Linked DNA regions of Homo sapiens. The protein of the gene in region 4 interacts with the protein of the main gene of each other region in a pairwise test. Each region holds a gene or a part of one and is shown on either strand. Other genes may lie near its edges.

Region 1 (3,500 bases), on a different chromosome or scaffold from region 4:
TTACTGAATTTCTTTCTGTATCTAATTTAAAGGAATCCATTATTATTTTACCCCACAATAATACACTTTTAATTTTTAATTTTACTTATATAATAGGTTTAACGAAGTTGTAACGTTCGACATCCTTCTAAGATAAAATAAAAATATCTGAAATGCTTTCTATTAAATGCTGGAAACAGCATATGAGAAAAGAATAATACAGTAGTTATTTAACTAAATTTAATTTGACAAAGTGCTAGAGAATTGCCCTCAAATGCTGAGAGATCAACCTTAATAAATCAGTATGTCGTTTCACCAGTTCACTGCAAGTTACAATTATCTTTCAAATTTTGGTGAATGGAAAATTTTTTAGCATTGTATAATCCAGGGAACTTCTCAGGTTGGACACCAGGAATTTTAAAGCCAACAGCCTCAGGGCTTCGGTCGCAAATATAGCCAAAAGGGTTCACAGCGCTTACTGATGCCAGCAGCTAGCAGAAAGAAATGTCCACCATGTAACTATGGACCATGGAAGACCTAAATCTGTAAAACTGAGGAAACAGACTTCCAGCTGAAGATCTGGAATAATTTATGACTGATTTTATTCACACCAAAATGTGCCCAGAGATGGAGAGAAACAAATTACTGGTTATCTTTTCTTTCAATCTAAAAACTCTTCAGCAGCAATAATAGATCAGAAATGTTCTATATTAATTGTAAATGATGCACATGCAGCGTAAATAAGAAGTCTGTAACTCCCTATCAGCTGAACGTATTGCCTATTTAGCTGTACTTACCATCCCGGGCTGGTGGAATGGTGGGAGGGGGAGGAGGTGTGGGTGGCTCTGTAGGGGCTTCTGTTGGTTTCACAGCTAAAATTTAAAAATAATAATTATAAAAACACACCATGTGCACATTTGATATCCCAGAAAGTAAATTTTAAGAGCAATTTAAATCCTGGATACCAAATCAAGTCGTACAAAATGAGACACCATTGTCATCGGTACTGACATGCTGGGGATTTTATTCCATCCAAATTGATGTCACTGGTAGTCATTCAACATCCACTACAGCTACAGAAAATAAAGATCTAAAGGGAAAATGTAAGGCCTTCAGATAGGGTCAAATGAGTAAAAGTCACTAATATGAATTCACCTTCTCAGCGAGAGCCATCTCTCCCTCCTTTAGCCCTTCCTCAAAGTAGCACCAACTCAATAACAGGGACAACTTGCAAATTGCTACAGAAAAAGGTCCTGAACCAGCTTTAGACTCCACATTCAGGAATCTGCCATCATCCCATCATTATTGCTACCCCTACGGAGAGGTACCTGCACAGGATTCACTTAAGTCTTCCTTACCTAGAGCATTCTATTCTAAAGCCTTATGAAAGCTTTCCAGATTCCTCAAAAACTTACTGGTATGTTCTTTAACAGAGACTCCTGGTCCCTCGAGATTTGGTGTCTGCACAAAAACAGTGACACCATAATCAGTGTCTGGTGAAAGGCCAGTGAAGCAGTGACTGGTTTCTGATCCACGCACTGTAATTTCTTGTCCCCTTGTTCCTGATTATGACAACAAAGGAAAATGCCAGTGTCATCACCAATTATATTTCAAGAAAATTTTATATCGCATTGTTATAAACAAAATGGCATCTTCTTTACTGAAATTTAAAATGTTTCCACTACATGCTCCAGATCATTTTTTTCTTTTTTACACACATACCATCTGCAGGGCTTAGTTTTAGCCTGTAGGAGGTGGCTGCCCGGTGAGGTGACCATTTGACACAGAATGTATCCCACCCAATCTGGTAAGTTTTCAGATCTGTTACATTTAAATATACTACAAAATAAAGAAAGAAAGAGATTTACTTTGTAAATTGAGGCAAAAAGTGTACTTTTAATCATAACACAATTTTCAAACTTTCACTGTGGCTAAAAAAAAGTTCAAAATTGTATTATGTTTCCTTATAAGAAACATACATGAATCATATTTAAAAATGTGGTACTGCCAAAATAGACCCCCCTTTCTTTCGCTGATTTTCAAGGAAAGGAAATTCCATATAGTCCCTCTCAAAACTAAGAATTTCAAAAACATCTCATGGAAAATAATGAAAACAATTTCTAAAAGGCTATCTGCTAAGTCGTTAAATAGTTATCAAAGCAATGGTGACCTTAAAATATATCTGTGGACTGAATCACACTAATCATGATTCAATAATTAAGTCAAATTAAATCAATGAATTTAGGTAATATATATCTTGGTATCAAATGTCAAGAAGAACTAAGTAGCATCACAGATCTAATTTTACAGGTCATTCATGGATAAAATGACAATTTCTATAATTTTTATCTTTTAAAATTCAAAGTATAATATTTTATGTGAAATACACAAATTTCTCACCATATATATTTTTATATACTCAATTATAATATTTATGTATTTGAATAGGTATTTTGTCTAACCAGACACAAAATAGCCTGCCTACATAATGCTGAGGAAACATGTATATGTTCAGAAACAGGAAATTAAAACAGGCTGACCTGGTAATTTCTACTACAGTTTTTCTCACAACCATGAAAATATCCATGACTCACATGTAGTGCCTTGATCTGTCAAGGGGACACTGAGTCCAGAATCATATTGAGCATAAACATTCACATCGTAGGTGGTGCTGGGATTGAGATTGTGTAAGGTATATGATGTCATTTCTCCAACAAAGGCTTCCATGGGCTCATTGGAACCTTTATTAACAACCACAAAAATACACAGAAACATGCCATCAATAGCATGAAATTTTGCTTAAAATTAAAGATCTTATAGTCAAAGGGTATTATGAACACGATTAATTCCATAGTCCTCATACACTTACTCACTGGGGCACATGCTATGTTATATGACAAATATGAAACTGTAAGCAGACACTGAATCCTTCACCCTCCTATTCTCAAAGCATAGCACAGTATTTGGAATATAGTAGGTATATAATCAATGTTTCTTTAGTGAATGAATTCTCAAGCTTCTTTCTCAAGCCCTATTTTGCCAACATAGTGTTTTGCATATAGTAGGTGTCCAACTGACACTTTTTCATTTATTGTAGAGATAATTTAAGAATTTCTATCTTGGACCTCATTCCACATACTTTGGCTGCTAAACTCCTTAGTTACCAACCCCACTTTCTTTTTTAAGTTCTCTTTCTATTTCTTACATAGGTTCAAATTTTACTTCCTTTATCTTGCCATCTCTCTTTCATGTTTTTTCTAGTTCATACTCTTACTGGATATATGGAAGATGCCCTAAGAAATCTGCATTTTTCTTCCAGTTTCTCTAAGAATACAGACAAAATATTAAAACAAAAATAACAAATAATTTAATCAAGGTGATACTAATTTAGGTGAAATTTTCAGAGGGGATTTGAAAGCAAGGCTGTCATGAATAAGCTGCATGGAATCTATGCCCAAAATAAAATAATACCTGGGCATAGTGGGAAAAATACATAGGTATATTGATGTAATATGCATTAT
Region 2 (4,051 bases), on a different chromosome or scaffold from region 4:
GGAAGGGGGCCTGCAGGCAGGGGTCCCAGCCTGCTTCCATCATCGCCTCCTTGTCCACATCTTTGTGGGACTGCCCGACTTCACAAGGCTCACCTGCCTGACCCCTGAGCACAGGCACGAGGTGGATGTCTGCCTTCTGAATGTGTTTCTGGGGCCTCTTGGGCTGCTGGCGGTAGGTGGACTCGGCCTCCCGACAGTTGTAGGCCCTGTTGTCCTTCTTTTCTGTCCGGCAGATGGACATGAACAAAGCCAGGATCAACCCGAAGATGCCCAACAGTACAGCCAGGCAGATCACCGTCAGCATCGACATGCTCAAGGCCCCAGGCTTGCGGGCTGAGTCCCTCAGGTGGTCCACACTGGTGACAAACATGACCCTCAACAGGGCTCGGGTCTGTAAGGGGGGGCTTCCCTGGTCCTCTACTACTATCTCCAGCTCCCACTCACTCCCAATGAGGCTGCTGGCATTGGTGACATTGACGAACAGCTGCCCCGTATGAGGGTTGAGGATGAAGAGGTGGGCTTCATTTCCACTGCGGATGCTGTAGAGGGGCTCTCCATTTGCCCCCGAGTCTGCATCTCTTGCCACAATGGTTGTCAAAAGGAATGGCCGGGAGCTGTGAGTGGCCAGTGGAGGTGTGTCAGTGCCCGCTGGGCCCAAGCCATTGGGAGTCTCGATGGGCACCAGCAGGTGGCCTGTGGAGGCATTCACAAGCACGGAGAGGCTGGCTTTTCCATCGCTGAGCACAGGCTGGACCACCTCTGGGGCATTATCATTGGCATCCAAGAGGCTGACCCACACAGAGACACTGGATGCAAGCATGGGTTGCCCGCTGTCCTCTGCGATCACCTGGAACTCAAAGCCGGCCATCTCTTCATAGTTCAGTGACCTCTGAGCAGTGACCTCTCCTGTGTTGGAGTCAATAGCTACTAAGTGAGCAACTGGGGAGTCCTGGATGCGGTATGAGACTTTTCCATTAATGCCCAAGTCTGCATCATGAGCCTTGATGGTAATGAGGTGAAGAGAGGGTAAGTTGTTTTCCCGCGTGGAGACTTCATACCTGCTTTTCTCAAACACAGGTGCATTGTCGTTGATGTCACTGATCTGAATGCTGAGCTGTTTCTTGGCTGATAAGGGCTGGAGTCCTTGGTCTTGGGCTAACAGAGTGAGGGTATATTTGGGCCACTGCTCTCTGTCCAGTGTGGCATTGGTTAGCAACATGTATGTGTTGCCATTAGTTCTTTTCAGCCTGAAGTGGCCCAGCTCTTGGCTCAGCCAGCAGTGGACCAAACCATTGTGTCCTGAATCCAAGTCATCTGCCATGACAAGAGCAATAAAACTGTCCTTGGGAAGAGCTTCTGACACCAGTGATGGCTGGGAGGCCCATGTGACGTGGATGCTTGGGATGTTGTCATTGACATCCAGAACCTTGATGAGAACTTTGCAATGGGCTGGGATAGGATTGGGACCCAGGTCCCTTGCCTGAACATCCACCTCGTAGGCAGGGTTCTTTTCATAGTCTAGAGGTCGACGCAGAATGACCTGGCCTGTCTTGGCATCAATACTGAAGGTGTCCAGCACCTCTGGAGGCATGTGCTTACTGAGGAAGAACTCCACCTCCCCATTGGGGCCTTGGTCAGGGTCTGTGGCGGTCAGTTTTATGAGAAGCGTACCAGGTGCAGCATCTTCTTGGATTTCCAGTGCCAGTGAACTCTCAGCAAACGCAGGGCTATTGTCATTGGAGTCCAAGACGTTGACCTTGACCAAGCTGGTACCTGACTTGGGGGGGTTCCCATTGTCATAGGCAGTTAACACCAGATCAAAAAATGAATGGATTTCCCTGTCCAGCTCCTTCACCACTATGAGTTCTGCATGTTTGGTCTCATCAGGGCCCACAATGACATCCAAGGCAAAGTGCTCACTGGGAGACAGAGTGTAGGTGTGCAGGGTGTTAGGGCCTGTGTCTGGGTCAAGAGCTCTGTCCAGGGGGATCCGGGTTCGCAGAGAGGCGCTCTCAGAGATTTCCAGCTCCTGCTCGCCTTTGGGAAACCGTGGCTGGTGGTCATTGATGTCCAGCACTTGGATCTCCACATGGATCAGAGCCAAATCCCCTGTGGCAAGCACATCAAAGGAAACCAGGCAGGGATCCCACTGTCGGCACAGCTGCTCTCGATCCAGCCGCCTGCCTGTGCTGAGCAAGCCTTCCTCAGAGTCCACCTGAATGGGGAGCGCCTGAGGCAGCTGCAACACCTGGAAGGCAGCCCCAGCTTGCCTCCGCCTCTCCTCCCGGCCCAGTTCCTGGGACAGCTTCCCGATCACTGTACCAGATGGCACTTCCTCTGACACTTGGTATTTCACCGTGAGAGTGGTCACCTCCTGACAATCCCCTAAAAGAAATAAGTAGCCACCTGGCCCCAAAAGCCCCAGCAGAAGTTGCAGAAGTTGCATCATGCTTACCGCCAAGTGGGCTAGATTCAGAAACCACTAGAGTTCTTTCAAGGCTGGACAAGTCCTCCAGTGTTTCCTGGATGGCTTGATCAGCCCCGTGCTCCTTCCCCCAGAGCTGCCGGCACAACCTTGTCCCATAGTTAGATGATTATGAAACAAGCAGGACCCCAAGGCAAGGCCATCTTCATTGGAAGCGATCTGAGATGTCCAAACGCCGATCAAGAATTGCCAGGGGAGACCCCCTACTGGGGAACTAGTTGGTCCACTTCAGCAAATGATGGACAAGAGCTGGTCTAAGAGGGACCTGACCCAGTTGAGCAGGATGTGGGACTCTGACTGCCAAACAGTTGCTAGGCTGGGGAAACAGAGAAGCAGCTTTTTCCTATGGAAACCCCACCTACAGGAAAAGGGAGGGCTGTGAGTTTCAATGCCAATTAGAGAAAGAGCATTTCCTGTGAAGCTAAGTGGCCTGCCGCTGAGGAGGATGAGGCCGGGGCTCCGGGGACAGGCCAGATGGGAAGCTGCTGTCCACGCAGCAAGGCGGCTGCTGAGGGAAAGGGAGCCTCTGCATCACCAAGTGAGCAGAAAACTTGAGCCTCCACCTGCTTGCACGTGGACTGATGCCCCTCCCGGGCAAGTCATGTTTCCTGTTTCTCTCCCCTTCCCCAACTCTCTTTGTTCCTATCTTTTCCCCCATTGTTCCCCTCTCATTCCTGTCTTTTTCCCAATCTTGTTTACCTCTCTGTCTTGACTCTGCCCTGATCACCCGTTTTTGTCTCACTGGAAAGCAGCTGTGATTAACAGAGCAGCCATCAGAGGTAAACTGCCTGAGTTCAAATTCTGACTTTGCAACTTACCAGCGGTGTCATCTGGGACAAGTCACTTAACTTTCCTGGGCCTCCATTACCTCATCTGTAGAGTGGGGATGGGAGTAAGAATAGTAGCCCTTTCAGCAGGAAACTGTGAGGATTAAACGAAATGATGTAGGAAGGGCTTTGGCCTGGGCCTGGCCCCGAGTCACAGGCAGTGACGTTATTGCAAGGGGTGAGTGTTGTAATCTGCACAACTTGTCACACCCTATGGCTACCTCTGGATCTTGGATTGGCCCTGGGGCAGTCCCTGCCCACACTGACTTATGAGGGTGCCCATGGTCTTGATTCCAGAAGCTGCAAGAACCTGTGCAACTTGACCGTGTGGCTCTCCTCCCGCTTCCCTTCTGCCCCCCTCCAGCCTTGAAGTCCATTGTTCTCTGCATCTGGTCCAGACTGAGTCTCTGTCTGGGGAACCCCCAGCCTCCCACTCCTCTTGGAAGCTTTTATACGTTTCCCTCTCCCACACCTTCCCCTCCCTTTCATCTATGTCTTTCCCCCTTCCTCCAATTCTTCTCTCCCCAGTTTTGTTTATAAGAGTCCCGTGAAGCACATCTCCTTTGCTGCCCCCAACTCTCCTTTTAGATGTTTTAAGGGATACCCTATCTTCCACTCACCTCCTCATAAGGTGAAATTCAGGAAGGAAGGAGGTGAATGAGCAGTTTGCTTGGGTGGGCTTTGAGGTGGCCTTATTGCTTCTTATTGTGCCCTTCAGTTTGCTGCCCCCAACATTCTC
Region 3 (3,500 bases), on a different chromosome or scaffold from region 4:
AACCCAGCTCCACCTGGATGATGCTCTCCGGGGCCAGGAGGACCTCAAGGAACAGCTGGCAATTGTGGAGCGCAGAGCCAACCTGCTGCAGGCTGAGATCGAGGAGCTGTGGGCCACTCTGGAACAGACAGAGAGAAGCAGGAAAATCGCCGAACAGGAGCTCCTGGATGCCAGTGAGCGTGTCCAGCTCCTCCACACCCAGGTGAGACCCTCACATCAAACAAATGCTGGTGTACTGGTAGCTGATGCATTCGAATTATAACATGAAAGTACTCAATTTGTATAAATATGTGTATGTAAACATGGATGGGGGATATGCTCAAAAATACTCATTGCTATTATCTTAGGGTAATTGGTGGATTATGGGTGATTTTTTTTTGTTTTTTTGGTGTGTGTTCCTGTTTCTTTCTTGGGGTTTCTACCCCTCACCAAAAAAAAAAAAAAAAAAAAAAAAAAAAAGCTATTACTTTTTTATTTAAAAATAAGATTTGGCTATTTAGATTATTTTGGAAACCATGAGGTAGAATACTATTGAGTAAAGATACCTGTTGCCTCCAAAATCTGAAAATGTTCCATGCAGTGTTTCTCATTGGTAGCACTTAAGCATTTAGCACTGCTGTGTTCACTGTCCCCATGCCTTACAGCTCATTTAGCATTCCTAACCTGCCCAGGCATTAAATGCAGTAGCACCCCCTAGTCATTTTGACAACCAAAAATATCTGCCCCTAAACATTTTCAAATACCTGTTGAGACGATATTGCTTCTCTCTAGAAACACTGAGTTGAAATCTTAAGAACATGTTTTCATAAGACAAATTCAGTGCTCTCCGACAGAACAAATCATAAAAATTCAGAGAGAATAGATTCTTTCAAAGCAAGAAACTCTCAGTGCCTGCCACTCACAAAACGAATCTATTCTTTTCTATTTCCAACCTTCCAGAGATAGAATAACTAGTGATGTCTGACTGAAATATAATTAAAAGAACAATTAACTAATGTATGCCAATAAAGGCATTCTCAAACCTCAGAAGTCCTTATGCATAAATCAGGTGGACACTGGGGAAGTTGGGGGAAAGGAGTTCCTACCTTGCAAATAATTAACATTTTCCACTGAACAAATAATTAAAGTTTAGTGAAATGTTGCCAGCAGATCCCCTGCACGAACCAACAAGTAAGACACTTGTAAAATCCCAAGAGGGCAAACTGCAAATTTTGTAAATTTCCACGACTACTTTTAACAGAATACCAGTCTCATTAACACCAAGAAGAAATTAGAAAATGACGTTTCCCAACTCCAAAGTGAAGTGGAAGAAGTAATCCAAGAATCACGCAATGCAGAAGAGAAAGCCAAGAAGGCCATCACTGATGTAAGATGAACATTTGGCCTACTGACACGTATGCACCTGCTATCATCAAGTTTCATTACTTTCTTAATTTATTTCCTAAATAGGCTGCCATGATGGCTGAGGAGCTGAAGAAGGAACAGGACACCAGCGCCCACCTGGAGCGGATGAAGAAGAACCTGGAGCAGACGGTGAAGGACCTGCAGCATCGTCTAGATGAGGCCGAGCAGCTGGCGCTGAAGGGTGGGAAGAAGCAGATCCAGAAACTGGAGGCCAGGGTGGGTGTCTCAATCTCTCTAAATCTGGGAAGGGAAAAAGGGCACTCTCTCTACCCTTCTCTCTTCCTACACAAGACTCCCATCCTGTCCTGGGGCTGGGAACACCCACCCCATGCCTTCAGTAGGTCTTGGGCTAATTAATATCCCCCAAGACTGACTGCGTAAGTATTTTTCTTGGCTGCAGGTACGTGAGCTTGAAGGAGAGGTTGAAAATGAACAGAAACGTAATGCAGAGGCTGTTAAAGGTTTACGGAAACATGAGCGACGAGTAAAAGAACTCACCTACCAGGTAAAGGGAATAGCCTTCCAGAATATCCACTCTTCCTGCCCAGAAGGAAATTGAAAACCTTATGACTATTTATTTATATGCCACTCACAAACAAATACGCATTAACTTGGTACATGTAAGGAGTAAAGACAGTTGCTTATCACAGACCTATACTAAAACTTAGGGAGGCCTTCAGATTTCTAAAGTTTAGAAAATAGCATGACAGTAAAGAACACAGATTTTAAAGGCAGATTAACTGGGTATTAGTCCTAGTTTGGCCTCTCTTGCTTCTTGAACTTAACACTCTAAACCTCAGTTTCTTCACCTGTAAAATAGAGATAACAGTGTCTATTTTCCCGGATGGGGAGGTAAGGACTGGAGAGGATGTGTGCAATTCTCTAATACAGTACCTGCACAGTGGAAACATTTACCAAGAGTGCTACTGTTAATTCTATGAAGAAAATCTCAGAGTTGATCAAGTTTACCCCAGGCCCACCTGCCATCATGCCAAATGATTTTATTTTAGTACCCAGAGTAGCCTTATCTCTTCGGAATGAATGCAGATTATTTTTTTCAAACTTTCAGACTGAAGAAGATCGCAAGAATGTTCTCAGGCTGCAGGACTTGGTAGATAAATTACAGGCGAAGGTGAAATCATACAAGAGACAAGCTGAGGAGGCTGTAAGTATCTTTAAGCCCTTGAGGAAAGAAGGAAATTTCTTTTGCAGTAGAAAGTGTTTTAAGAGAATGCGTCAATAAGGAAGAAGACAAAGTGAAAATCTACCACTCATTTTAAGAGGGATGATTTTATAAATATGAATTTGTCCCGCCAAATCCAAATTACAGAATAAGACTTCAAAAGATTTATTTATTTATTTATTTTGACACAGAGCCTCGCTGTGTCACCCAGGTTGGAGTGCAGTGGTGTGATCTTGGCTCACTGCAACCTCTGCCTCCCAAGCTCAAGTGATTCTTATGCCTCAGCCTCTCCAGTAGCTGGGACAACAGGCATGCACCACCACACCTGGCTGGTTTTTGTATTTTTAGTACAGACAGGGCTTCACCGTGTTGGCCAGGCTGGTCTCAAACTCCTGGCCTCAAGTGATCCACCCACCTCGGCCTCCCAAAGTGCTGGGATTACAGGCATGAGCCACCACGCCCAGCCGAGATATTTTTATTATTAAGCAATTTGTAAGGGTTGAGGGGGGCAAGTTCTAAACAGCTCACTTACTTGATAGCTACAAATGATATACAGTAGAAATTCTAATTAATACCATCATAAATATTCCTCTCCCTCTAGACATAGAAAAAATCAAGTTCTCAAAAGCCAAACATCAATCTTTTACCCCACCTGACTTCTTCACTCACCACTAGTGTCATCAGTGGGGGCTCTTGCCCCCACATTTGCTGTAGCTAATATAAGAACATGTTAGAAGATTCTGTACCTATACCCTTCCTGGTTATCCCTCCACTCTTCCAGACACATGTGATAGGTAGGAAGTAAATAGGAAGAAAAGGAAAGAAAAAAGGGAGAGGCATAAATGGCAATGAGTCAATTAACAGAGGAGACTTTCTGTCTAGTCCCATCTTTTCCCTTTCTTTATATACTAGA
Region 4 (3,500 bases):
GCAGGAGAATCTCTTGAACCTGGGAGGCAGAGGTTGCAGTGAACTGAGATCATGCCATTGCACTCCAGCCTGGGCAACAAGAGCGAAACTCTGTCTCAAAACAAAATTAGGTAATTAATTTAAAAAAGGTTGTCTTGTGATGTGTTTGTTGTTGTTGTTGTTAACAGGGTCTCACTCTGTCGCCCAGGCTGGAGTGCAGTGGCGAGATCTCAGCTCACCGCAACCGCAACCTCTTGCCTCCTGGGTTCAAGCGATCCTCCTGCCTCAGCCTCCCAAGTAGCTGGGATTACAGGCACTACAGACATGTGCCACCACACCCGGCTAATTTTTTGTATTTTTAGTAGAAATGGGGTTTCACCATGTTAGCCAGGCTGGTCTCGAACCCCTGACCTTAGGTGATCCACCCGCCTCGGCCTCCCAAAGTGCTAGGATTACAGGCGTGAGCCACTGTGCCCGGCCTGTACTCTTCATATAGGGGTGAATATGCCCTTTCTGGTTAAGAGTGATAGGCCTTGTCTCCGGGCGTTCTCTCTGGACGGGGATCTCCCCGGTGCAGGGACTGCCCACCCCACACATACTTGCTGCTTGGTTTGATCTCCTGGCCGTTCTTGAACCACTTGAGGGTCAGGTCTGGGTCGCTGATCTCTACCATCAACTTGATCTTGTTGCCTCTGTCCACTTGGTAGGCTGGATCCAGCTTCTTTGTGAATGCTGAAGATTGAGGCATGCAAAGGGGATGGAGGCGTGTGGTCCTCATTCCCCTGGTCATCCCCAGAGGCACCACATCTCCCTCCCCAGGCCCTGGGCTCTCCAAGGTCAAAGTGAGGAAGTCAGGGGGCCTCCTATGAACTTAGAGATCCTTGAGAACTTCTCTGGTGGTGATGCAGGGCAGGGGACCCCAAAGTGGGGCTTAGCCTGCAAGGGTTATCGGCTTCACCCAGGAAAGAAGTCAAGGGCAAGCCAGTGTTAGGTAGAAGAAAACAGCTTTATTTTTATTTATTTATTTTATTTTATTTTATTTTATTTTATTTTTTATTTTATTTTATTTTTTTGAGACAGAGTCTCACTCTGTTCCCCAGGCTGGAGTGCCACAGCGTAATCTCAGCTCACCACAACCTCTGCCTCCCTGGCTTAAGCGATTCTCCTGCCTCAGCCTCCCAAGTTGCTGGGATTACAGGTGCACACCACCATGCCCGGCTGACTTTTGTATTTTTAGTAGAGATGGGGTTTCACCATGTTAGCCAGGCTGGTCTCGAACTCCTGACGTCAGGTGATCTGCGCACCTCAGCCTCCCAAAGTGCTGAGATTACAGGCGTGAGCCACTGCACCCAGCCTGAAAACAGCTTTATTGAGGTGGCAGTGTTACAGCCCTCTGACTGCTCCTGCGGAACAGGGCTACCCCAGAGACAGAGAGCAACGGCTCAGGGCAGATCTGCAGTCAGATTGATACCCACTTTTAATTACCTAGAGATTAAGGAGCAGGTTATACAGAAATTGCTAGGAAAAGGGTGGTAACTTTTGGGTGGTCTGGTCATTGCCATGGAAAGGGGCAGTAACTCCTGGCTGTTGCCATGGCCATGGTAAACTGACATGGCACACTGGTGGGCATGTCTTATGGAAAGCTGCTTCCACCCTGTCCCTGTTTTAGCTAGTCCTCAATTTGGTCTGGTGTCCGAGGCCCACCGCTAGAGTTGGGTCTTGCCTCCTACCTCATTGGGACCTCGAAAAGATAGGTCCAGGGTCCAATCATTAGACACCCACAAGGCTAGGGGTCCCTTGTGTGCAGGGCCCAGCTCCCCCCAGACCAGGGCTGACCTGCACTCTTCTTGACCTCGACCTTAGCCTTTTTCAGCCGCTTCAGCATGCCCCGGAGGTCGGTGATGCCATACTGGAAGGCGATTTTCTCGTACTCGCTCTTCTTTGCCCCTTTCAGGAGCTCCCAAATCTCCGGGGGGATGCCTAGGTCATCGTCATCTTTCTTTTTCTTCTTCTTCTCCTCCTCCACCACCTCCCTGGCGGGTGGGGGAACGGACAGGGGCCATCAGGGAGTGAGGAAGGGAGGATGTCCCTCTGCCTTCTTCACTCATTGGCTCTGTGACTCACCCAAGCCACCTTCCCTTTAGGGGTCTTATTGTTTCCCGCCTGGTCCATTGCCCCAGCCTCCTCCTGGGGTCTTCTGACCTCTTCCCAGCACAGTCCCCACTGGGTTTTTTGGTTTTTTTTTTTTTTGAGACAGATTCTCACTCTGTCTCCCAGGCTGGAGTGCAGTGGCGTGATCTCGGCTCACTACAACCTCCACCTCCTGGGTTCAGGCGATTCTTCTGCCTCAGCCTCCCGAGTAGCTGGGACTACAGGCTCACGCCACCACCCCTGGCTAATTTTTGTATTTTAGTAGAAACAGGGTTTTGCCATGTTGGACAGGCTGGTCTCGAATTCCTGACCTTAAGTGATCCACCCGCCTCAGCCTCCCAAAGTGCTGGGATTACAGGTGTGAGCCACCATGCCTGGTCCGCAGAGTATTTCTTTTCATTTATTTATTTATTTATTTATTTATTTATTTATTTATTTTATTTCCACAGGTTATTGGGAAACAGGTGGTGTTTGGTTACATGAGTAAGCTGTTTGGTAGTGATTTGTGAGATTTTGGTACACCCATCACCCAAGCAGCATACATTGCACCCTATTTGTCCTCTTTTATCCTGTGGGGTATTTCTGACACCCACATCAGTGGTTCTCCCTTTCATGTTCAGAACTCTTCTGTGGCTCCCCACTGCCCTCAGGAGGAAGCCCCAGCCCTCCGCCTGGCCATCACACCCCAGCTACTTCCGTCACTCCCCCCAAAGTCACCTGAACCAAGCTGCTTGACTTTTGCTGAACACTTCAGGCTCTCTCCTGCTTCCCAGCCTTTGCACAAAATGTTTCCCTACCTTCATGACCTCTCCCTACCTTCTCTTCCTCCCAGACTCCTCTTCATCCTACAAGACCTAGCACCAAAGTTCCCTTCTCCCTGAGGCATTCCGTGTCCTACAAGACAGTGAGTTGCTCGTGCTCTGGGCTCTCACAGGCCCCGGTGGGACCCTCTCTAAAATCACACCAAATAGTCTCAGTCTGTATCTATGTCTGTTGGACAAGACCCATTTCCCAAGGCAATGAGTGATCTCACATCAGGGACCCAGTCAGACTGTTCTCTCTCCCTGGATCTCAGCCCAGGACCTAGTAGACGGGAGGCCTCAGAAGATGGTTGATGGGTGAGAGAGTGAGTGAATGCATGGATCTCAGCCCAGGACCTAGTAGACGGGAGGCCTCAGAAGATGGTTGATGGGTGAGAGAGTGAGTGAATGCATGGATCTCAGCCCAGGACCTAGTAGACGGGAGGCCTCAGAAGATGGTTGATGGGTGAGAGAGTGAGTGAATGCATGGATGGAGCTTGGGAGGGAAGGAAGGAAGGGAAAGGAACAAAGAGAGGATAGATGTGGAGGTGAATGTGGGGACATGAATAT
Region 5 (3,500 bases), on a different chromosome or scaffold from region 4:
GCCCACCTGCTGCAGGAGGCAGGACACACTCTATTGAGTGCCTCAGGTGGACCCTGAGATGCTCTCCCAGCCCCAGCTCCTCCCTTCCTCTGGATTTGCAACTGCTGTTAAGACAAAGGGACCTTCTCTGCTCTGCCATCAACATCTCACCTTCCTTTCAGACCCAGTTCCACACCTCCCTTCCAGAAAGTCCCCCTGCCCACCGCAACCCAAAGGGCCTCATCTTCTCCTAACCCCTTCATTACAAATTCTAGGGGCTTGCTGAGGACAGCTTTGTCTCACCATGAAGGGCAAGAACTCAGTTTCTCTCACTGGACTAAGAGCCTCCAAGGGTAGAACTTTGTACACCTACCAGATTGGAGACTCCCCAGAGCTGGGCTCTGTATCCTCATCAGACCAGGGGCTCTCCAAGGACAGAGGTTACTTCTCTCCATTAGACTGGGAGAGCTCTTTGAGGACAATGATGAACTCCCCCATTAGACCCAGAGTTCCCCCACCACAGTGTCGTCAGGCCTGCTCACCGGGAAGGCGTAGATGAAGATGGCCAGGAACAGCAGCAGGATGAAGAGGATGATGAAGAGGATGATGGCCCACCGGAAACGCCGCCACAGGATGAACTTCATGGTCTTGTATGGGGAGGTAAACCACAGGAAGGAGGTGTCGGGGCGCCTGGAAGCGAGATCCCGGAGGTCAACTGGGCATCCTTTACTAGGGCTGCTTTCTCCAAACTCTTCTCTCAACAGCAGGTCCAATGGCCTGGCCCTCCACAGTCCACCCCCAGCGCCTGCCCAGGCCCTGTCCCTAAACTAGCCCTTTGCACCTTGCATTCCCTCTCCCCCAAGCCCTTGCTACAGTATCACCCCCACCTGTGCTGCCCTCCTCTTCTGGGTGCTGCCAAGCCCTAAGCATCCTCAGTGGCCCAGTTTCTCTGCCATCCTCTCCAGGACACCTTCCTTGGTGCCCTCACCCATTCCTGACCCAGGACTTAATCACAAACTGCAGATTTAGGAGCTGGGCAGTGCTTCAAAGTGCTCTCCAGCCCACCGAGCCCCAGATAAGCCAAGACACCTGCCCAGATGCACATGGCTAGTCCATGCTCAGGGAACAACGGTGGGAAGAGAACATAGGAAGCTGGTTCTCTCACAACCAAGAATCTCAAAACCTTTCCCTAGGCCAGCTCCACATCTCAAAATACGTGGAGGATTCTGGGTCTCCATCATGGCCCCGTTAACATCAGATTGCACACTGGTGTCTCACGGGTCTCTCTTTTCTTCCTGTGCAGATCCCAGCATCCTTAGGCAAGGGTGCCTCTCACTGCTCTGCCAGCCCCATGGCACTCAGGCACACGGTGCTAATCACAGCATGGTGACTAACTGAGCCATCTATGCTAAATCCAACTTGAGCCAAGTAGGCTGGTGGGGCGGGATCCAGCAAACACATTCCTGAGCCCCCACAGCCATCTTTCAGTGACTCTGCCCCTGTAACTGCCTTCACAGCATCTACATCCATTGGCTTGGTCTATCTCCCCAAGAGGTCTGTGATGTAGGGAAGACAGGGATTGGGCTCCCCATTTCACAGATGGAAAAATGAAGGCTGAAAAACCATTTGAAAGTCACACTGGCACCATAGGAGAGCCACCGAAGGCAGCTTGGTAGGGTCAAGACCTTGATCGGGCTCTGGAGCCAATCAGACCAGGTGAGAGCATTTCTGCTTCACCACTGTCCTAGCTGGAATGCCCTTATTTAACTTTGCTGAGATTGTTCCTCATCTGTAAAATGGGGATAATAACAACTACCCTGCAGGGAAGGTTCCATAGCACAATGTACACATGCATAGGATAGCATGCTTGGCACACAACCAACAGGTACCCAATAGCACCTGCATCTTGAATTCGCTGAGCCCAGTGTTCTCTGGACAGATGCCCATCACCTTCCCCCTAACTTACTGTGTGGCCTTGGATGAGTCGTGCCCCTCTCTGAGCCACGTGGGCTTTGTGACTTCTACATGGCCATGCAATGGGATGCCTCCTGGACTGTGGCCTATACCCCCAGACCTGTGGGCATTGGGGCTCAGGGGCTGGGCACTGACCTTGGGTCCTCAAGCTTAGGGTTCATGTTGGGCTCATCCCGGCCCTGGCCAGCAGGCCGCTCCTCATGCTCACTCTCTGCTACAATCTCCAAGGTCATTTCCAGCTTGCCCTGAGGGGACAGAGAGCACTTGGTTAGGGGCACGAAGGCTCTGCTCAGTGGCCTGGAGAGTAACCAGGCCAGAAAAAACATAAGGGCCACTTCATTATTTAAAAAAAAAGATGTAGGGTTTCTGAACATAAAAGCAGCACCTGCTCTTTGTAAAACATTTGGAAACTTCAGAAATGTATAAAGAAGGGAGACTGCCACCCCTACTTCCACTACATGGAGACAAGCACTGTTAACATTTGCATGCATCATAGCTGATTTTCTCTGCAAGCTTATGAAATGTCACACTGTGCATATACAGTTCCATAGATGGCTTTTTTCACTTCGGAATATATTTCACTATGTAGTTGTCTATTCTTTAAAGTTCGGTTTTTAATGACTGCCAAACATTGTATGGGATGGTTGACCATAATTATTTAGTAAACTACTTATTTTGGTTCATTTAGGTTGTTTCCAACTCTTTGATAGGGTAAATAATGCTGCAACAAATATCCCAGAACCTAGACTTTTAAAATTTATTGGGTTATTTATTTAGAAGGATTTTAGAAGTCGGATGACAGAGTCCGAGGGCATAAATATTGTTAAATCTGTTACTATATGTTATCAAATTTCTTCCTCCACACAGTAAAACCATTAGTGCTCCCAGCAGAAGTAAAAGGGGGGCCTGTCTTCTCTCTGCATGCTCAGCAGCAATGAGCATTTCTGTTTTAAAAATATATATAATTTAACAGACAAAAAAAACACATTTAAAAATACAGTAGTCCTCCCTTATCTTTGGGTTTGATTTCTAGGGTTTCAGCTACCCGTGGGCAGTACAGTAAGATATTTTGACACACAGAGAGAAAGACCACATTCACCTAACTTTTATAACAATATATTGTTATAATTGTTCTATTATTAGTTATTGTTGTTAATCTCTTACTGTGCCTCATTTAGAAATTAAACTTTCTCATAGATATGTATAGATGGGAATAAACACAGTACATAATACGGGTTTAGTACTATCTGTAGTTTCAGGCATCCCCTGGGGGTCTTGGAACATATCTCCTCCAGATAAGGGGGGGACTACTGTATCCCTTTATTTAATTACTGGAGAGACTAAACCTTTTTAAAAATGCTTTGCAGACATTGGTAATTATTTTGTGAATTAGCTATGCATGTCGTTTTCTCATTTTTCCTTTGGGGTACTAGTATTTCTTATTGTTACCACTCTTTATATAACAAGTATATTCAATTTCAAGGACCACTTTCAGGGTTGGCTGGCTGCCTGAAATTTCTAAGTAAACTTTCAGGGATTAACTTCCT
Region 6 (3,500 bases), on a different chromosome or scaffold from region 4:
ACATAGGGTGTGGGTGACATGAGGCAGGCACCTGGGCTGCAGAACGCCTGCCCGCGGTCCCTCCCTCCCTTCACCACAGCCTTCCAATCAGCCCATTAAGATTGCAGATTTGCTGCTACACAAACAGTGTCCATGGGGGCGTGAGCTGCCATCCTGTATGAGGCCATCCCCGAGAAGCTTCCGGAAGATGCAGGTGCACACCAGCCCCAGAGGCAGGGATTCTTGATCTCGGCACATCCATGATCGATGTAGCCAAATCACTAATATTGCCTCCCATTCTGTCTTTACTCTGCCACCCATTAACTTCTCTCCTACCGACAGCCTTTCCCACCAGTTTCAATCTCATTGCTTTTTATTTTGGGTGGCTTTTTAGATCCTAGTTCTGGAAGGCATGTGATGAGCAGTAAAATCAACGAGCTCATACAAAGGACTTCCTGCCTCCCCACCTCGATCAGGAGCTGAACTCGGCCAGCAGGACCTGCCAGAACACTACGCCAGCTCCACAGAGTGCTGCTCCGTGGCAGGACCTGGGCACGGGAGAGGCTGCCATCTCTGCTCTCTGACTCCCTGCAAACCAGTGCCTCTCCAGGGCTGACGGAACTGGAAAAGCCTTTAAATGTCAGACCCCCATAATCAAAGCTCTGCGCGTCTCATCAGCGAATGTCAGCTTACTTTTTTGACGCATATTCGTCCAGCAGGTACCGTGTTTGAATATTACGGTAGGACTGGTCGAAGTGCCTATGTCTCTTCTGGTAGAAGGGGACAGTCACAAGGGACATCTTGGCGTGCTCCTACAAAGAGAGTCACACACAACACTGAGCTCCCTCGCAAGCATCATGAGGCCTCTGCCATTTCTGCATCATTCCAAAGGGGAAAATGAACTCCAGTTAATAAAACCCCCTTGGGAAGGGAAAAAATGAAAGATTACATGGCCAGAAATCACCTTAGACCAGCAGTCAGGAAGCCTATTAACTTCCCAGGGACCCAACTTTATTTTTTGTTTTCTTCCACAACAGTTGGAAGATTGGGCTGCTGTTTCATTTCATTGTGAACTCAACAAGTATTCCTAGAACCCCTGGTGTGTTCAGGGCAAAGTTCAAAGCAATATAAGTGGGAAGTACAAAAATAATTAAAGCAGATTAGAGAAGTAAACAAACACTTAGAATACAAGAGAACATACGATAAGAGCCAAGAGCCCGGGGCAGGTAGAAGGTGTCCTGGGAATGGCAGGAGGCCAGGACGGCCGAGTGGCCCACGAGGCAGGTGACATTTGAGAGGAGGCTCGGTGGACAGGTGGGACTGCCAGGCGGAGGTGGGAAAGGAGGGCAGCCCATAAGCAAAGGTCGGGCAGGAGAATCCAGGATCATGGGAGACTTGCAGGGGTGGGTGTGACCAGAAATCACTCTGGAAAGACGCAGCCACAAGCGGAGGTGGCGGGTGTCTGCCTGGGGAACGGGCAGTCTCTCCACCATGCAAAGGGGGATGTGGAAAAAGGGACTGGCTGGAGATGCCCCCTGGAATCTGCCGTCTGAAGTCTCACTGGTTACGGTAGACAGGCGTAGCAGGAGGTGAGCAGGAAAAGTGAGGACAGAGCCTGGCATGAAAGCCTCAGGGATGTGGGGAAATTCGAGAGTGTGGATGAAATTCTCCCCAAACAGGAGATGAGCGAGTTCCATCTTTTTCTCTGGGAACTTGCAGCATTACAGGTATTAGACATGGCAATCTGCTGTACATGTTCACCCAAAACACGTAAAATGCCAACGTGCTGAGTGACTTGATCATCACGGCAAAGTTACGTAGGGACCGTATTCCTAAATCTCTGCAGTCATTAATTTCCCAAACAAGGTGCAAAAGGACTCACAACCTGAGCTCCATTTTTTACTTTTCTGTTTAAATGACGAGGATCTGTCCTTATTTAAAGACAGAACTCCTAGGCCAGGCCCCATGGCACAGCCCCAGGGGTGCCACCCACATCCCGGGCCATGGGTATGAGACTTGGGTGGAAAATGCCAAGGGCTGCTCGGAGATGAATTTGTCATAGTTCAGATCTCCAGGGTACGTGCTAGAAAACCTACCACAGTACATAAATTGCTCCTTATGAGCTGTTTCCTTTGAACTCTGTAATCTCCGAGAATCACAGTATTGTAGAACTTGGAAAGATCACTAGCGATTACCCAAACTCCTATTCTACAGGGAAGAAAACAGGACACGAGGGCCAGAAAGGAGAAATTCTTCCCCAAAAGCATGTAGAAGAGGCTACCCCTGCCCCAAGGCCATCCTTATTCTGGGCCTTTCACACTGCCACACTAACTCTCTCAATATTGCCTCTTAAAACCCAACTAGTCGACCAACCACCCCACCCTGGGAGGGCCCAGCCGTGTTTTAGAGTGCACCAGCATGCATTCTACTCCAGGGATATAACGGAACGTTGCACCTCATAGAACACAATAAAAGCAGCCGGGCGCAGTAGCTCACACCTGTAAACCCAGCACTTTGGGAGGCCAAGGCGGGTGGATCACGAGGTCAGGAGATTGAGACTACCCTGGCTAAGATGGTGAAACCCCGTCTCTACTAAAAAAAATACAAAAAATTAGCCAGAATGGTGGGGGTCCCCTGTAGTCCCAGCTACTCGGGAGGCTGAGGCAGGAGAATGGCGTGAACCTGGGAGGCGGAGCTTGCAGTGAGCCGAGATCGCGCCACTGCATTCCAGCCTGGGTGACAGAGCGAGACTCCATCTCAAAAAAAAAAATAAAATAAAAATAAAAAATAAAATAAATAAATAAATAAATAAAAGCATATCTCCTCCACCCGCCCTGATATTGAAGGCAGTATCATAGTGCAGAGGTCAAGCGCCCAGGTTTTGATGTCTGGTAGACCTGGGATCGAATTCTGACTCCAGCATTCTGATGAGGCCTGGGGTAGCTTCTAGCTCCTCTAGCTCTGGCGTTCCATATTGAATCTGCATCATGCCTGGCCCTGGCCCTGGTACCGAAATCGGTTGCTGTCTCTGTTATGCTGCTGCTGTTATCATGGTTCAAGAATTCTGCAGACAGGAAAAGGTATCTGAGAAAATCTATGTATTGCTTCACTATTTGAAATCTCCCCAGATGCAGCTCACTGGGATTTTCCAATGAGTTAATCAAGGTGGATCTTCAAGAAACGCTTCCTGCTCAGAAACCCATTTACTCTCTCTGGAGTTCACCAGCAGGGTGCTGGGAAGAGCTCACTGAAATGAAGTTGGACCAAGGTTGGGGAAGACGTTTCAGCTTCCATCCGGTTTCCTATCCAAGGTTCTTCTGGGATCAGCCTGACGAATACCAGGCAATTCCACTCCAGCAGACGCATGAGCAATCCCCAGTACCTGCTATTGCAGCAGGGGCTCATGTGTCATCACAGTATCTACTTACACTTATGTTGAGTTAAACCTCAGATGTGTTTGTATTTCTTGGTAAAGGGAAGAGTCAAAATGTGACCTATTAGGTCAAAGGAGAGAATGAGCT

The links.
Region 1: the proteins of MYBPC2 (region 4) and COL12A1 interact in a two-hybrid assay, tested with the Homo sapiens proteins (one large-scale study listed by BioGRID and IntAct).
Region 2: the proteins of MYBPC2 (region 4) and PCDH12 interact in a two-hybrid assay, tested with the Homo sapiens proteins (one large-scale study listed by BioGRID and IntAct).
Region 3: the proteins of MYBPC2 (region 4) and MYH8 interact in a two-hybrid assay, tested with the Homo sapiens proteins (one large-scale study listed by BioGRID and IntAct).
Region 5: the proteins of MYBPC2 (region 4) and DYSF interact in a two-hybrid assay, tested with the Homo sapiens proteins (one large-scale study listed by BioGRID and IntAct).
Region 6: the proteins of MYBPC2 (region 4) and MYOM2 interact in a two-hybrid assay, tested with the Homo sapiens proteins (one large-scale study listed by BioGRID and IntAct).

Annotation. Positions count from the first base shown.
Region 1 is NC_000006.12:75,122,554-75,126,053, forward strand, and holds part of COL12A1 (collagen alpha-1(XII) chain long), read right to left. Parts: intron 2,721-3,500; coding exon 2,574-2,720; intron 1,819-2,573; coding exon 1,702-1,818; intron 1,542-1,701; coding exon 1,395-1,541; intron 852-1,394; coding exon 777-851; intron 1-776. UniProt on the Homo sapiens protein: Type XII collagen interacts with type I collagen-containing fibrils, the COL1 domain could be associated with the surface of the fibrils, and the COL2 and NC3 domains may be localized in the perifibrillar matrix.
Region 2 is NC_000005.10:141,955,403-141,959,453, forward strand, and holds the start of PCDH12 (protocadherin-12 precursor), read right to left. Parts: upstream 2,801-4,051; 5' UTR 2,450-2,800; coding exon 1-2,449. UniProt on the Homo sapiens protein: Cellular adhesion molecule that may play an important role in cell-cell interactions at interendothelial junctions. Acts as a regulator of cell migration, probably via increasing cell-cell adhesion.
Region 3 is NC_000017.11:10,390,951-10,394,450, reverse strand, and holds part of MYH8 (myosin-8), read left to right. Parts: coding exon 1-202; intron 203-1,240; coding exon 1,241-1,366; intron 1,367-1,449; coding exon 1,450-1,620; intron 1,621-1,804; coding exon 1,805-1,909; intron 1,910-2,473; coding exon 2,474-2,569; intron 2,570-3,500. UniProt on the Homo sapiens protein: Muscle contraction.
Region 4 is NC_000019.10:50,439,392-50,442,891, reverse strand, and holds part of MYBPC2 (myosin-binding protein C, fast-type), read right to left. Parts: intron 2,013-3,500; coding exon 1,816-2,012; intron 712-1,815; coding exon 579-711; intron 1-578. UniProt on the Homo sapiens protein: Thick filament-associated protein located in the crossbridge region of vertebrate striated muscle a bands. In vitro it binds MHC, F-actin and native thin filaments, and modifies the activity of actin-activated myosin ATPase.
Region 5 is NC_000002.12:71,679,699-71,683,198, reverse strand, and holds part of DYSF (dysferlin), read right to left. Parts: intron 2,199-3,500; coding exon 2,089-2,198; intron 670-2,088; coding exon 522-669; intron 1-521. UniProt on the Homo sapiens protein: Key calcium ion sensor involved in the Ca(2+)-triggered synaptic vesicle-plasma membrane fusion.
Region 6 is NC_000008.11:2,048,046-2,051,545, reverse strand, and holds part of MYOM2 (myomesin-2), read right to left. Parts: intron 792-3,500; 5' UTR 780-791; coding exon 673-779; intron 1-672. UniProt on the Homo sapiens protein: Major component of the vertebrate myofibrillar M band. Binds myosin, titin, and light meromyosin. This binding is dose dependent.